2 separate regions of the Homo sapiens genome follow, and region 1 is linked to region 2. Evidence: fine-mapped expression QTL. A gene starts in region 2. The other region holds a variant in brackets. All regions are shown on one strand. Distances are between the middles of the regions.

Region 1 (2,918 bases), 110 kb after region 2:
AAAATCTCATTCACAGGTTTTCCAAGGTATAAACAAATTCATTGTTGTCTTCTATGGCATCATCAAACCTATGCTCCACACCACCTCTACAACTTGCATCAAAGATGTGAAAAGTCCCTTTAGGAAGCAGGTGATTTTGACTCATACACCAAGACATATTGCATGAAGCTCATGTATATCTGGGAAACCAAGCATCAGATAATTCACTTCTGTACAAACAGACACCTACAACCCCTCAGCACCACGCCAAACACTTTCAGGACTCAAGACATGGTCCTAGCTCTTAAGGAAGATGCAATCTAGTTGGCAGTGGGGAGAGGAAGGAAATATAAGTATACAAGTAATAATATAAAAACAAAAATATCAGCAGAATATAGTAAGTGCTACATACTTACTCTACAGAGAAAGAGAAAGAATTCACTTCACATTGATAAGGTGGGTTCATGTGAAGCTTCAGGAAGAAGTTGACAACATTGGAAGTGATATTTTCAGCATAAGAATTCAGAGACTTGGATAGGAGGATAAAGCAGTGGAGGGTCACTCTAGGTGAGGGTAACAGAAGAAACAGAAGCATGGACTGGCAAAGAGAATGATACAAAAAGGGAGAGAGATCTCCTTTGAGCAGAGAAGGAATGTCAGGATGATTGAGAAGAGAGGATAGAAAACATAGCACTTATCCCAGCCAGGAATTGTCATTTTGGGAACTCTGGAGCCAGACTTCCTGGATTCAAATCCTGGCTCTGCCACTTAACTGGCTGTGTCACCTTAGGCAAGCTGTATAATTTCTCTGGGTCTCCATTCTCCAACCATAAAATGGAGAAAATAATGGTACCTATACCTTATACAGTTATTTTTGAAGATATAAGAAGTTAAACCACGGGAAGTAGTTGGAACAGTGTAAGCATGCAATAAACGTTAGCTATTATCATTGTTCTCTTTAATTTTCCCATCACTTAATAGAGAGAACTTCTCTATGTAACTCACCATTTCTGACTTCTGTTTATACTTACAACTACTTGGGACACATAGCATGAGACCAGCCTATGTTCAAAGTATATATGAATATATGTGATTAAATGAGTGAATGAGTAATGAATGTATGAATGAATTGCACTGGGATCCTTTTTATATTAGAGTCCCTGATGTAAAATCTATACTAAAGCCAAGATTCTTCC[T/C]GTGCAGCATATGCTTCTGTTCAACATATGCTGACTTCAGATATGTGTGTTTCCATTTATCCAGTCTTTGGGAGGCAGTGCTGGGGCTGGATGTGTACAGGATTCATGAATGCAGCCAGGGATGAGAGAACAGAAAACAGACCAATGAATAGGAGAACTAGGTTTGAATCCTGGTTCTGCTATGATCTTGAGCAAGCCATTCTACTTATAAGCCTCAGGTTTGTCATATCGAAAATGGGAATGATTCATGATGCCTACCTTTCAGAATTCTGGTAAGAATCAAAAGACATAAATCAGGTGACAGTTCTTGGCATTCCAAATGAGTTTTCTTCCCAGTTTAATGTACTGATAACTGATATTAAAACAGGCTTGCTGATTTTCCTGGAGTTTGACATACAGTAGGTACAGGGACACTAAATCACCACAGAAGCAGGCAGGGTAAGGATTTTCTGGTGGACACTCAGACACTTCAGACAACTGAGAACAGTGACTGCTTTCCATATTGCTTTCTACACAGTCGCCAGCCTGTTATGGCCTGAAGCTATTTGTGACTCAGTGCTGTGCTTCAGCCTGTTATTTTCTCAGTACCTGGCAGGCGATAGGGGATCAATAATGTTTGTCGAGTTACAGATCCAGTCTTCCACCACTCATATCATTCTCTCTCTCTCTCTCTCTCTCTCTCTCTCTCTCTCTCTCTCCTCCCAGCCTGCCCCCTGCTCCATTCATACATTCATTCAACAAATACTGCCTACCAATTGAGTGTCAGGCCCTCTGCTAGGCTCTGACAGGCACTGCTGTAGTGCTGATTGCTTTCTCATTCTATTTCCAGTCTCTGTCACTCAACCTCTTCACCCCATCACATACACATGCACTGTTTCTTACATTATTGCTGTGATGTTATACTCCTTTTATCCTTTCCCTTTTTCTGTATCTCCATCTGCCCCAGCCCAGTCAATGACTAACCCACTTCAGATCTGCTCAGCCCACAAGCCCTCAGTTTCTGGCCTCTTATCCCTTTTCTGAGCCCCACCTAGTCCCCAGAGACAGCTCCCCTCCTGGAGGAATTGGCACAGACATCTCAAGGGCAGGTCTGCCCGAAGCCCAGACAAGCAGGTGACTTCCCAGTAGCCCTTCCTGAAGGCCACCTCTTAAACTTCTAGAGTCTCTAGGGAAACACCAGGAACTTCCAGAAAGGTCCTTTCTACTCCCACTTCCCACTTATGTCCCAGATATGCCTTGTCTGACTTGCACCTCCCCATCTGGAATTTCCTGGTTCCCCTGGGAGGTGCTCAAACTATTGTTTTATTCATAGTTTCACTCAACCAAAATTTTGTATGCACTTACTTCTCTCAAGATTTTTTCCATGCATTATCTCATTTAATCCCCAAAACAACCCATGAGGTATTAATATTGTCTCCATTTACCAATGAGGAAACCTAGGCTCAGAGAGATGACATGACTGTCCCAAGGTCTCACATCTAGTGTGTGGCAGAGTAGATTCAGAAATTTGAATCTCCTCCTTACTAAGTATGTCTCTCCTCCAGCCCTCACTCATCAGTGGACACCATGTTATGAAATTGAGTGACAAACACACAGTGGTTAGTGGCTGAAGAAACAATGCCAGTTTTTATGTTCTAGAGATCTTGCATTTACAAATGTCAATCTGATTTCTCTTCTTGAATGCCTTACAAAAATCTCAAACTCAAATATCACAAACTGAACTCAACATTTCCCCAACTCCTC
Region 2 (2,918 bases):
CCCAGAAACACATCTTTTTATTCATATGCCTATTCTATTCATTACACAATAATCTATAGTTTATAATGGAAGCCACAATTGATATCACCTGATGCATGAAGATATGATAATCAATTTGGCTGTAAAAGAGCTGTTACTTTATTTTTACACAGTTTGTTCTTGAATTAAAGTGTTTTTCATTAGATAATTTGAAATCTTTTATGCAGGTAGAAAATGTACATAAAAGGCTGGGCATGGTAGCTCACGCCTGTAATCCCAGCAGTTTAGGAGGCTGAGCCTCCAGACCAGCTTGGCCAACATGGTGGGACCCCGTCTCTACTAAAAAATACAAAAACTAGCTGGGTGTGGTGGTGCGCGCCTATAATCCTAGCTACTCGGGAGGCTGAAGCAGGAGAATTGCTTGAACCTGGGAGGTGGAGGTTGCAGTGAGCCAAGATCGCACCACTGCACGCCAGCCTGGGCGACAGAGTGAGACTGTCTTAAAAAAAAGGAAATGTACATAAAGAAAAATTTGTCTATTTTTTAGCCAATTAGTCTATCATGTTGATATTTCTTATCAATTAGTCTGTGAGCCCATTGGATGCTATACTTTAATCTCATCATATGTTATATATCAGGAGCTTTGATTAGTGTCTTATTCATACATTATCATTATAAAAAGTCTTTCATAATCAACATTTGTGAAAGGTTGCTCTATATTATTAAAATCATGTTACTCTAAGACATTTGGGGAAGGGCTTACAGATTAATAGTAGTAGTAGTAGTGGTAGCAGCAGCAACCACTACCATTTATTGAGCACCTACTACATGCTAGGCCTATTGTGCTGTTAGTTTTACTTACATCATCCCATTGAGGCCTTGTGAAATAGGTTCTGCTGTTTTTTGTTTGTTTGTTTGTTTTTTACTTTACTGTTGGGGAACCTGGGACTCAGAGAGTTTACTCACTTGCTTGAGGTCACACAACTATTGAATGTAAAATGTGGACTAAAATATACATTTGTATGTCTCTAAAGCCTGGGCTTTTACCCCAAGATGGACTTTGAAGGCTGTCCAAGTTACTTAACCCTCTCTGAGTTTCCGTTTCCTCATCTGTAAAACTGAGGGGAGTAACACTTATTTTGCAGAGTTGCTCTGAAGATGAGAAATAATGGATCCCAGGGCCCAGGGGCACACAGTAGGCACTTAAACTGTGGTGATGTTTATGCATAAATGGGGCGTTAAAATGGGCAGGGGAAGATCTGAGATCCCGATAAAGGTATTGGGGAGCTGGAGAGAAGGATCTACAAATCTTCTTGAGAGCTGGCCTTCTCCCCCCCACAATACAGTGACCCAGTGAAACTCTGAGAGACAGGCGAGGGGGCAGGGGCCTGAATTTGGCTCCAGCAACCTCTGCAGGGAGTCCGGAGAGAGGCGGGGAGCTGGGAGGGGCGTAGAAATCCCCGTCGTCAGAGGACTGCAGGTGCCAGGCAGAGTTGGTGTAGGTGGGCTCCCCGAGCCCGGCGCAGGGAGGGGAGGAGGTTGGGGCGGGCCGGCAGGCGGGCGGGGGAGAGAGGAAGGCGGGGCTCAGAGCCGAAGAGGCTGTCCTTAGACAGCTCTTCTCATGCCGGGCAGTTTGCTGCATCTGGAGGAGCTCACTGGAGAATCTCCAACATCGGAGCGGGCCTTCAACTACCGTAAGTACCTACAAATGAGCGCATAGTTCAGTGGCTGAATATTAAATACTGGCCACCGGATCCTAAACAAAACCCCGAAAGAGTCTCCTTGCTGTAATTAATTGCCGTAAATCAAACTGCTCCCCAGTCTGTCCCCCCACCCGCTTCATTCCTGCCTTTCTCCTTTCCTTCCCGGATCCCAGACCTGCCTCGGTGAGAATCTCTGGGCACTGTAGATATCTCCCCTTTTCCTTCTCAGTCTTCCCTCCAAACCCTCAGCTGAGCATGTACCCGGCACCCCGCCGAGCCCAACCCCTTTGATTCCTGGAGCCCTCAAAGCTATGCAGGGGGCGAGCCATTAGACATTTCAGATATGTCACCCTCAAAAGCACTGCGGCGCTGCCTAAGGGTGGGGAAAGTGCTTGGGGTGGAGTAGGAGGGAAGGGTAAAACGGCTAGGCAGCCAAAGTTGGGGGTGGGGGTGGGGTGAAAGGCCAAAATGGGCGTGGCCAACTAACCCAAGGCTTGGGGCTGTTCTCATGTTCCCCCGGTATAAGATTCATCATCTGGGCTGAATATAAATGGTACAATTTCCTTAGTGATTGAGGAGGGGTCAGCCATGCCAAAAAGCCCAGCTTCCCTGACTCCCCTCAATCCCCCAGTAGGCAAAGATCCTGGTTTAGGGGTCCAAGTGGCAAGGCTGAAACCTCAGATGGCATTTCCTGGGTGTAATCCCAGGTTGAACCTCTCCCTTGGCAGTGGAACCTGGCTTCCCCCAAAAACTCCTGGCCCAAAGCCCCAGGGTAACAAAGCAACAGGGTAGCATCCAAGCTTTGGCCTGGCCCTGAGAGGAGTGGGAGCAAGGGACTGTAGGAACTGAGATGGAAAGGGCATCTTTAGGGCCCTACACCAGTTGGATGCCCCCTTTGAAAAGAAGAAAAAATAAGCATCTTTTTAAAATGTAATGTTCACTATGTGCCTGGCACTGTACATGTATTATCTCTAACCCAACACAACAATAATGTTAGGTCGATATTACTCCTCCACTTTACAGATAAGGAAAATTCAGAGTGGGTAATCTGAAAATCCTTTGATACAAAGTGAAAAATGTACAATGGACCTATGCTTCCTTGGATTTCTCACTGTCCACTTGTTCCCTACAGTCCAGATATTTTGAACACGAAATATCCTCCTCTTCCTGCTCCTCCATCCTACCCAGTGTTAGCACTGGGGCAAGTTTGAGGCTGAGGTCCAAGGTCAGTCTGGA

Direction of the effects. Positions count from the first base shown, and alleles are read on the strand shown. Sizes are in standard deviations (SD) of each study's normalised expression.
For the expression in thyroid of the gene that starts at base 1,581 in region 2, C is the low allele of the variant in region 1 and T is the other (small effect, 0.28 SD a copy in GTEx).

The links. PIP is the estimated chance that this variant, and not a neighbour inherited with it, causes the effect.
Region 1: its variant is fine-mapped to the expression of IGSF1 in thyroid (GTEx, PIP above 0.99).

Annotation. Positions count from the first base shown.
Region 1 is chrX:131,177,552-131,180,469 of GRCh38, reverse strand. No RefSeq gene overlaps it. Among named protein-coding and RNA genes, the nearest start is that of IGSF1, 110 kb to the left of the region's middle. The variant T/C (reference allele first, on the strand shown) is at 1,176.
Region 2 is chrX:131,287,969-131,290,886 of GRCh38, reverse strand. It overlaps IGSF1 (immunoglobulin superfamily member 1), which reads left to right and starts at 1,581. Exons shown (of 20, transcript NM_001555.5): 1 at 1,581-1,673. RefSeq lists an enhancer at 1-102.